2 separate regions of the Homo sapiens genome follow, and region 2 is linked to region 1. The links come from fine-mapping of genetic effects on gene expression. A gene starts in region 1. The other region holds a variant in brackets. All regions are shown on one strand. Distances are from middle to middle. Region 1 holds the start of SLC4A8 (solute carrier family 4 member 8). Region 2 overlaps GALNT6 (polypeptide N-acetylgalactosaminyltransferase 6).

Evidence for each region. PIP is the estimated chance that this variant, and not a neighbour inherited with it, causes the effect.
Region 2: its variant is the best candidate, but not a certain one, in a credible set for the expression of SLC4A8 in substantia nigra (GTEx, PIP 0.87).

Annotation. Positions count from the first base shown.
Region 1 is chr12:51,422,415-51,427,785 of GRCh38, forward strand. It overlaps SLC4A8 (solute carrier family 4 member 8), which reads left to right and starts at 2,417. Exons shown (of 25, transcript NM_001039960.3): 1 at 2,417-2,621. The coding sequence starts at 2,574. SLC4A8-AS1 (SLC4A8 antisense RNA 1) reads right to left here and starts at 2,914. Exons shown (of 3, transcript XR_001749147.2): 1 at 2,826-2,914; 2 at 2,073-2,185. RefSeq lists silencers at 2,176-2,385, 2,656-2,865 and an enhancer at 2,976-3,035.
Region 2 is chr12:51,351,283-51,356,653 of GRCh38, forward strand. It overlaps GALNT6 (polypeptide N-acetylgalactosaminyltransferase 6), which reads right to left. Exons shown (of 12, transcript NM_007210.4): 11 at 4,524-4,676; 12 at 1-3,210. The coding sequence ends at 3,097. Among named protein-coding and RNA genes, the nearest start is that of CELA1, 7.3 kb to the left of the region's middle. The variant G/A (reference allele first, on the strand shown) is at 3,260.

The DNA.
Region 1 (5,371 bases):
GCTGGAGTGGAGTGGTATACTGAAGCCTCTCCTGGGCTCAGGTGATCCTCCCACTTCAGCTTCCTGAGGGGCTGGGACTGCAGGTGCATGCCACCATGCCTGGCTAATTTTTTTGTATTTTAAAAATAGAGATGGAATTTCTACATGTTGGCCCAAGTTGGTCTTGAACTGTTGGGTTCAAGGGATCCATCTGTCTTGGCCTCCCAAAGTGCTGGGATTACAAGTGTGAGCCACCATGCCCAGCCCACAGCCTTTCTCTATCACAACTATTACCTCCCACTGCTCTTCTCAATAACTTTCTGCTTTGGCCCAAATTGTGGCTACCCTGAATGGGCCATGTGCATTATTATTCTTAAGTCTTTGCCTAAGACTTGAGATGCTTGCTCTTCTTACCTTGGGTCAGCTAAATCTTACCCATGTTTTCAGACTTAGCTCGAATCCATGTCCTCTGTGAAACCTTCCTGAAGATCATTTTCTCTTCTGAATTTTTGCAATCTTCATGGTTTATATAATATTACTCATTAACATATACCCTGTTTCCCTGATAAGCCTGTTAAGCTCCCTTGGAGATATATATTTTAGATTTCTCTGCCTCTACAGTGTTACTTGGGCCTGTTCATTAGTAGGTGTTCAATACATTTTTTATTAGATTGAATTAAAAGCATTCATATTTACTAAGTACTTTCTATGTGCCTGGGATTGGTTGAGGCTCTGTTGAGTATACAGAAGGGCATAAGAAAAATAATCATTGCTTTCAAAGAACTTATAATATTTTAGTAAGCTAAAGTCAACATATAAAGTACTTAAATAACCACAGCATGACAACTGCTATAAGAAAGGTATGAAGTGCCTTGAGAATTCTGGGGAGGGTGAGATGACATCTGTTAGGGGTATCAGGGACAGTAGAATAAAGAAAGGCTTCTTGGAAGAGGGTGGCTTTTGAGATTAACTTTGAAGGATGGTTAAGATTTTGATGGACAAAAATGGGGATGAGGGTAGGATGTGAATTCCAGATTCAAGATGACAGGATTAGTAAAGAGATTGATGGAGTGTGTGGCAATGAACACTAAAACGCAGAGACTAGACAGGAGGCTTATACAGGACATCAGAAATACAATTCTGCTTCAGGGATACTGAAGCCCAACCTTGTTTCCAATTTCAGGACCAACACAAAGGATGGTAAGCAGGGGTGGAAAGTTTTAACATGTATCAGACTACCTTCCCCAACTGTAGCTTCTTTAGGGGCTGAGAATTATTTGCAACAATTCTTCCCCTGACCCCAATTTGGACCTACCTGAAGTCTGGTATGATAGTGCATATAAAACAAAAGGCCCCACGGCCGGGTGCCATGGCTCACGCCTGTAATCCCAGCACCTTGGGTGGCTGAGGCGGGCAGATCACCTGAGGTCAGGAGTTCCAGACCAGCCTGGCCAACATGGTGAAACCCCGTCTCTACTACAAATACAAAAAAATCAGCCGGGCGTGGTGGTGGGGACCTGTAATCCCAGCTACTCAGGAGGCTGAGGCAGGAGAATCGCTTGAACTGGATAGGCGGAGGTTGCAGTGATCCAAGAACACGCCATTGCACTCCAGCCTGGGCAACAAGAGTGAAACTTCGTCTCCAAAAAAAAAAAAAAAACAAAAAAAACAACAAAAAAAAAACAAAAAAAACCCAAAAGGTACCTTTCTTTTTCTTGAGGAGAGAGGGTTGCTTCGATTTTAGCCAGCCTCTCTTTTCTTATAAATCCAAATCAAATTTAATGCATTATTCATGATATTCTAACCTTGTGTTAAGTCAGTAGTTCTGTTGCTAAATAATAGTTTGCCTTAGATCATTTCCTGGAAAAGTTCGAAGCCTTTTTGTGGAATTGCTTCAACAGTCATCCTTAGCTCGACCCTGTCCGTGTGTTTTGCTTCTGACTTGAGACTCAAGAAGAAGACCTAAGTCATAGTGAGACTGTGAGGGAGCCTGACACTGCCTGCCTTCTTCAATTTAATGCTCTTTAATCTGGCCATTAGCTCAAGGAAAAACAATTAATTTTAGAAGGCCCTCTCCCCTCATCCGCAATTACCTCCTCCTGCAATCGCGAAGGATGTTTGCCCGGAATTTAAACATCATCTCCCAAGGAATGAAATCAGAATAGGCAAAACCGACACTTTCCCAGTTTTCAAGGGTCAGGTGCAGCTGCAAATAGAAGCAGAGATTTTCTAGCAAGCAGTTGGAAGGACCTTCACGCCCAGAGGCCCCTGAAGGGAGGGAGGCGGTTTCCAAGGCAACCGGGCCCGGGAGCGGTTGGCTCCCCGGCTCCTCCCCCTCCCCGCGGTAGCCCAGGGTACCGCCGGACAGCGTCCTCCCGTGCTCCGCGCCCTGATTGGCTGCGCAGGCCTCTCGCTGATTGGTTGCGGCGGATGCCTCGCGGGCCGGTGGCTATGGAGGCGGCGGCGGTTGATGGTTGACCGTTGGCTCCGGGGTGGGGGTCGCCGTTCGAGTGATCTGCTCAGACCCGACCAGAGGGCGCGGGCTGCTGATGCTTGGCTTGGAGCCCGTGGGGGAGACCTAGTTCGGCTCCGCCATGCCGGCCGCCGGGAGTAACGAGCCGGACGGCGTCCTCAGCTATCAGGTAGGGCCCCGCCTCCCGCGCCTCCCGCTCCTCCCCGGGGCGCAGCCTCCTCATCCTCTGCCCACCCTCCTTCCTTCTGCCCCCGAGCCCAGGCTTCCCAGGCCGCTCCCTGAGGGCGAGGGGAGGCCAGCCCGGGACACCAGGGGGCGCTCCGGGCGGTTGGGGACCAGGCCAGGGCTGCGAGAGAGTGACCTTGGGCCGAACCTGGGATCTGGCCCATCTCTGCCGCATCCCTTGCGCCGCCCGCCCAGGAGCCCTGACAGCCGGCGGGCGGCGACCTCTTGTTCTCCTCGCGTCTTTCTGTTGGAAGGGGCCGGCGTCTGGCCTCGCGTTGTCCTGCCAGAACGTGGGCAGAAAGGGTAGCAGGGACCTTGCTCTGGTGGGGCACGTCTTCTCTTTGTGTTTTTATTTCTGGGGGTTTCTGGTTCCTCAGTGGTTCAGAGGAAAAGCCAGAAAAGACTCTGGAGGCTGGGACCAATCCCTGATAGGGTGACCCGGTTTGTGACTCCCTCTGCCCCATTGAACAGACACCTGAAAACTTCTGGGTAGGGACTGCAAACTGGGCTGAGGATGTGTGGAGGGGTCAGGAACAGGTGCTTATTTAAGGGAATTAAAAAACCAAGGTTAAGTAACTGGTATTGGAACTGTTGGGGCGGCTAATGTAAGGAAAAGCATTGGACTAAGTGTTAGAGTCTGTAGTTTGAAATCCTACCTCTGCCTCACACAAACTTTGTGACCTTGAGTAAGTCACTTGCCTCTTTGAACCTCAGTTTCCCCAGCTATTAAAATGGGAATAGTTATGTCTGCTTTGCATGCTTCACAGGGTTGTTTTGAGGATCAGACGAAGTGCTGTTTGTGAAAGGGCTTTGTGGAGTAATGTTTATTGTGTGACACTCAGTGAATGAGTGGCAGCCCATTGAATTCTCACTCCCCGTTTCCTGTGCAATCAGATGGTGTGGTTTCTGCCTTGGAAAGAGGGTTGGAAGAGGAGGCAAGTCTGAAGTACAGGGCTCTGAAGAGGGTAATGGGCCATCTCAGGAAGGATGACACGTCTTGGAAACAAGTGCCATGTTGACCTCAGGGATGGTTTCCCCGAGGAGGCAGGGAAAATATCCTGAGTTTGCAACAAAATGAGTATCAGACACTGACTCTCTCCTCTTCTTCCTGGTTAATAGTTTGCTACAATTAATAGAAGATACATCCTTCTTTCCTTGCTCTGTCTGAAAAGAACAATATCTAAGATTTTGGAAAATGCATATCTAACCCCCTTAAAGCCTATTAAATGTATTCAATCTCTGTTTGGGATACAATGGTAAGAAAAAATAGGCAATGTTCTTGCCCTCCTGGAGCGTATCATTTAGTGGGGGAGGGGAGAAGTACTATTTTTAATCAAATATCACACAAATAAATATCATAAACTGTGATAAATGCTTTGAAGAAAGATAGGCAGTGCCATAAGCGTGTATAACAGTGGTTCCAGACATGGTCTCAGAGAAGATTTTGCTAAGGAAGAAAATCTGGGCAAAGAGCTAAAGGATGAATAAATGTTAACTGAGGGAAGAGGGGGATCACAGGGCCTGAGAGGCAAAGAGAACAGCTACACAAAAGACCTGTGGCAGAGGGGGACACACCTGGTTAGAGACCTGAAATGAGGCCAGTGTGGTGCAGCAACAAGGAGCGATGAGGGGAATGGTATATGAGATGTGTTCTGGGGTTATAACACACAGGGCCATTTGGAGCCCATGCTGAGGAAGTTGACATTTATCTGAGGAACAAGGGGAAGCCACTGAAGGGGTTTAAGTAGAGGGGAAAGGGGAGAGAGGGGGTCTCTCCTAACCGGGAGAGAGAGAGAGGGCATGAGAGAGTAAATGAGATCATGAACAGATTTTCTTTTTTTTTTCTTTTCTTTTTTTTTTTTTTTGAGATGGAGTCTTGCTCTGTCGCCCAGGCTGGAGTGCAGTGGTGCGATCTCCACTCACTACAAGCTCCGTCTCCCAGGTTCACGCCATTCTCCTGCCTCGGTCTCCGGAGTAGCTGCGACTACAGGCGCCTTCCACCACGCCCGGCTAATTTTTTGTATTTTTAGTAGAGACAGGGTTTCACCGTGTTAGCTAGGATGGTCTTGATCTCCTGACCTCGTGATCTGCCCGCCTCGGCCTCCCAAAGTGCTGGGATTACAGACGTGAGCCACCGTGCCCGGCCCAGATTTTCCTACTGAAAGATTTCTTTGGCTGCAGTGGGGAGAATAGGTTGGAATGGATGTGAGGATACAGTGTCCTTAACATGCAGAATGTTTACAGGTTATATTATTGAGGGCATCATGACCCTTAGGTTTCTGTTAGTGTTCTGTGAAATTAGTAATTCTTGAGTACTTCTGGAGTAGGATAGAAAATATCTCCTTTATATCTAGTTTGTGAAACTTTCTTGGGTGGTAGGGTGAGGAGAAGAAAAGGAATACAATGGGAACAGTAGGACCTCATGAAGGCTGGAGTCAGGTAATAGGCAAATGGAAATTTGAGAGATAGGGAGGAAAAGAGAATGAGGGTAGAAGGAGGAAAGGAAATGGGGATGACTTGGGGGAGAGACAGTCAACTGACTGGCAATGACCAATTAAACCTTCTATGTGCTAACTAGGCTGTGTGGAGATGGGCCTTGTAAAGTGAGCAGATTGTGTAACTTGATGTAAACAGAGAGGTTCCAGACATCACCTCTAAATATCATAAGGCTGTGCTGTTTTGGAAGATGTGAGC
Region 2 (5,371 bases), 71 kb before region 1:
TCATAACATTAATTTTTTTTTGAATGGAGCAAGAGCTCCGTGAAGGCTAAAGTGCCTAGGGCCCCTGAAATTCATGATGTAACTCTGATCTTCCAGCTTCTACACCAGTCACTCCCTCACCCCAATGTCCTCTGGGTTTCTCAGACCCACTGGGGCCACATGTCCTCTGTGGCTTTGCTCCTGCCAGGCTGCTGCCTGTGTAACAACTCTGCTTATTGAGCCCTTCCCATCTGAGGACTCATCTTCCGAGGTCTTAGGTCAAACATTGCCATCTTTGTGAGGCCTTATCTGATTCCCTAAGTGGAAGGAATTGCTCCTTCTAACTCATCCAGCACCTCTTGGAGCATCTCCAGGCTTGCTATGATTTGCTTACATTTAGCGTGTGAGTTCCACGGGGACAGGACCTCGTTTGACGTCTCACGTCTCCACGTGCTTGACACAATACATAAGCTAGATTTAGGGCCAGAGAATGTTTGGGGACATGAGACAGTGGCTGTAACAGAACTTTTCAGATGTGTGTGGTTCTTCATAGCCCAAATCAACTGATTCAGCTAAGGGACAACACAGGTAAGAGAACACAACGCGAGTTTCCTTGACCAATGCCAGAAAACCTTTATTTCCACTGAGACCTCTCATCCAATTCTCTTCTTTCCGGGAACTTTTTCCCTTCCCTACTCCAGGTCGTACCCTGGCCACTCCTTTCCTTTTGGCTGGCCAATGTCTCCTCTGTAGGCTCCAGAAGGCTCTCAGGGATGTAGGCGGCCTCCCGCAGGGTTGAGTTGCAATGGGAACAAAGACAGCTGTGGTCCCATAGCACCCTCATCTGGTGACATCCTGCTACTGACAGTCAAAAGAAGCCTTCCCAGATGAAATTTTAGTCCTCTGCGCAGCCATGCTCTTCTTCCAGCAAAAGAGCCATGTGCAGTCGGGTCTGCTCCCCATGGGGGCTTTGATGTGGGCCCAGCAGTGGATCAGCCTTCCAGACACGCTCAACTCTGCACACTCTTCCTGCCGCCTCAGGCTTTCCAGGACCCTCCCGAGCCTTATCAGAGTCCTTACCCTCAGGGCTACTGATACCTTGCTGGGTGACCTTGGACAGATTCACTTACCTGGACTCAGTTTCATAATATGAAAATGATAGGGTTGGGCTACGTGATTTTCACGTTGTGCTTCCAGATTGTTAGAAGTTAGGGGCTGGAAGGCATTACCTGTCCCTCTCTCAATTTCACTCATGCTACTTTGTTTTTTTAATCTACCTTTTATATGGGGCTTAGAAAAAAGGGTTCTGGGACAAACCTGAGAATCACTGGCTCCAGGAGCTTTCTTTTAACACTAACATCCCAGGATTCCTAAGTGTGCTCTCTCCACAATGGCTACCTGGCCCTGTTTTTCCTTTCTTTTTTTTGGAGATGGAGTTTTGCTCTTGTTGCCTAGGCTGGAGTTCAGTGGCGCGATCTTGGCTCACTGCAACTTCCGCCTCCCAGATTTAAGCAATTCTCCTGCCTCAGCCTCTTGAGTAGCTGGGATTACAGGTGTGCGCCACCATGCCTGGCTAATTTTTATATTTTTAGTAGAGATGGGGTTTTACCATGTTGGCCAGGCTGGTCTCGAATTCCTGACCTCAGGTTATCCACCCGGCTCGGCCTCCCAGAGTGTTGAGATTACAGGCATGAGCCACCGTGCCCGGCCCTGGCTGTTTTCCTATGCTCTGTGGAGGCCAGCCAGCTAGAAATGATTAGAATGGAGGAAGAGGGAATGAGAAGGCTGGTGGCGAGTGGTCTAGCGTTCTTGTGGTGCAGCGGAAGGAGCCCTGGCTCAGCATTGAAGAACGAGCCTCAGTCTTGGCTCCAGCCATCTGCTAGCTATGGGACTACAGACAAGCCCCTTTACCTGTGTCTCAGTTTTCGTATCTGTAAAATAGGCACAGTGGTTTCTGTCCTGTCTTTCTCACAGGATTACTGTACAGATAAAGTAAGATAAAGGACACCTGTCAAGGAGATATCTGTAAACAGTTCTACAGACTTCAGGTAATAATAGCAAGGGAGGATCTCTTAGACCTCTGATCTGTCTGTTAGAATATACTTTTTTTTTTTTTTTTTTTCCTGAGATGGAGTTTCGCTCTTGTTGCTCAGGCTGGGGTGCAATGGTGCTGTCTTGGCTCACTGCAACCTCTGCCTCCTGGGTTCGAGTGATTCTCCTGCCTCAGCCTCCCAAGTAGCTGGGACTGCAGGTGCGTGCCATCATGCCCAGCTAATTTTTGTACTTTTAGTAGAGATGGAGTTTCACCATGTAGTCCAGGCTGGTTTCAAACTTCTGACCTCAGGTGATCCACCTGCCTTGGCCTCCCAAAGTGCTAGGATTACAGGTGTGAGCCACTGTGCCCAGCCAGAATATATCATTTCACTGGACTCTGCAGGTGCTTTGGATGATCAAGGAATAGGACATGGCTGTAGAAGTACTTTTCTTCTTCTTTTTTGTTTTTTTTTGAGACAGAGTCTTACCTGTTGCCCAGGCTGGAGTGCAGTGACACAATCAAGGCTCACTGTAGCTTCAACCTCCGGGGAACAAGCAATCCTCCCACCTCAGCCTTCTGAGTAGCTGCGACTACAGGCATAAGCCACCATACCCAGCTTTTTTTTTTTGCCGGGGGGAGGGTGGGCGTAGAGATGGGATCCTCACTATGTTGCTCAGGCCGGTCTTGAACTCCTGGGCTCAAGCCATTCTCCCACATTGTCTTCCCAAAGTGCTAGGATTTCAGGCATGAGCCACTGTGCCCAGCCTGAAGTACTTTTCTTGAACTCAGCATTGCTGCCCTGAACCCTCCCCCAGCTGCCTTCCCTACTTTGGGAGCCTCTATTTCTAGAACAGGAAAACGCTAGGCTAAATATATGTCCTAATGGTCTCTTCCATCGGTGTGAAGGAAAGAAAATGGGCCCAATGTTGTTGCAAGGATTAGGAAGGTCCTGCCTTGCCACCCAGTGGGTTTAGAAATCCATCTTTACGGCCTCCAGAGAAGCTGGTGATCAGGTTCCCAGACATCAGCAATCCTGTTTCCTGAGGAGCTTGTGGGGGCTCTCTCTGGGGATGATCTGGGTCCTAGACAAAGAGCCACAACTGATGGGGGTCACTGGGATTGCAGGGGGCCATGGCTGGCTTTTTGTCCTGGGATGTCAGGCAGGTACCAGATCCTGAGTTCCTGATGAGCTGATCCTAAAAGATGACAAAGCAAAAGGTCAGTCTGGGCCACAGACCTCTTAAC[G/A]GTGCTACCAGGGACAATGCGATGGGGTGCAATTGACAAAAGCCAAGGGAACCCCACAAGGCACAAAGAGGACACTTCCCCATTCCTTTCCTGCCCTCTCATGAGACACATTCCTGAGTTCCCACCTCTATCTGGTGCCAAATCCCCATCCCTAGCTTCAGACTGAGTGGATGAAATGGTGAAAGACAAGACCATGGGCTGAGAGAAAAATGCTTTCAGGGCCTCCCGCACCCCCAGATGGCCAGGCTCAAAGACCCAGGGCCACTGCTCCACCTCCAATTTTCTGCCTTGGATTATGTTTAGACTGCTCCCTTCCCTGCAGCCTCCAGGTTAGGTTCCTCTTTCCTAAGCTGGGGTGGAGTAGGGAGGCTCACTTGGGGTGCTGGCTTGAGCTCAGCATGGTGGCGGTTACATGGCATATCCTGGAGCAGTGTGGTGTAATGGAAAGAGCCCGTGCTTTCAAGTCAGACCCATCTGGGGCTAAATCCCAGGCCTGCCATTTACTAGTGATGGGTCTTGGGCCAGTCACAGACATGCTGGGCTTCCTCCGGCTCCAGCTCATCTGTAGAAACAGTGACTATTCCTGCTTGGAAAGAGCCTCTGAAAGATTAACTGGACCCAGGCATGTGAGTGCCTAGCTTTGAGCCTAGGACACAGAGGACAAGCAGGAACTATGAATGACTCTTCACCTTCTTCTAATTGGGTTCAGCCTAAAAATGCTTCAGCCATGGCAGAGCTAGCCACGAACCATAACCTGTCACCCCATTTTTACATCAGTCATCACCAAATACCCTTTAAGCCTGAAGAACCCTGCCTGTGGCCACACACACACTCACCTACCTTCTACATTGCTCTACTCCACCCCATGGCGTCTCAGGAAGAAAATGAAGAAAATATAGAGGGGCCGATGTGGCCTCAAGTTCTCTTTTTATTTTTTATTTTTCCCAAGATGGAGTCTTGCTCTGTCACCCAGGCTGGACTGCAATGGCACGACCTCAGCTCACTGCAACCTCCGCCTCCTGGGTTCCGGCAATTCTCCTGCCTCAGCTTCCTGAGTAGCTGGGATTATAGGCGCCGACCACTATGCCCAGCTAATTTTTGTATTATTAGTAGAGATGGGGTTTCACCATGTTGGCCAGGTGGTCTCGAACTCCTGACCTCGTGATCTGCCCTCCTCGGCCTCTCAAAGTGCTGGGATTACAGGCGTGAGCCACCACACCTGGCCTCAAGTTCTTGATTCTGAGCTTTCTGGACACTGACTCACCTGGGCCAATTCCCATTCCTCGTCCTTGGGGACCTGGCTATTCTTGCCAGTGAAGTGACAGCTCCCAAGGCCCAGAGCACCCTTGCTGACATGTAGACACAGCTGCTTTGCGATGTTGTGGCGAAGGTCCCTCTGAGTTGTGTACTCAAAGTACTGGAAATCAAGACAAGAGAAGCAGGTGGAGAGTTCACCCCCAGCCTTCCAAAGCCACCTGCCCTGAGCTGTCTACCATGCATGGTCTCCTGGGGAGGAGAGTGAATGTGAGGCCATGCCAAGACTTTACTCATTTATGTGCTGCCTTCAGGATTGTTACCATATCAGGGTTATGCTGGAATTTTATATACATATATATATATGTGTGTGTGTATATATATATGTGTGTATATATATATGTATATGTATATAAAATTCTTTTTTATGAGATGGGGTCTTGCTATGTTGCCCAAGCTGGTCTCAAACTCCTGAGCTCAAGTGATCCTCCCACCTTGGCCTCCCAAAGTGCTGGGATTACAGGTGTGAGCCACTGCGCCCAACCAGTATATTTTCTCTTTTTTTTTTTTTTTTTTTTTTTTGAGGCAGGGTCTTGCTCTGTTGCTTAAGCTAGAGTGTGGTGGCATGATCATAGCTCACTGCAACCTTGAATTCGTTTGTTCAAGCGATCCTCCATGTCAGCTTCCTGAGTAGCTGAGACTGCAGGCGTGTAGCACCACACTCAGCTAATTTTTTAAAAATTTTTTATAGAGATGGGGTGTCTTGCTATGTTGCCCAGACAGGTCTCAAACTCCTAGGCTCATGTGATCCACCTGCCTCACCCTCCCAAAGTGCTGGGATTACAGGTGTGGGCTACC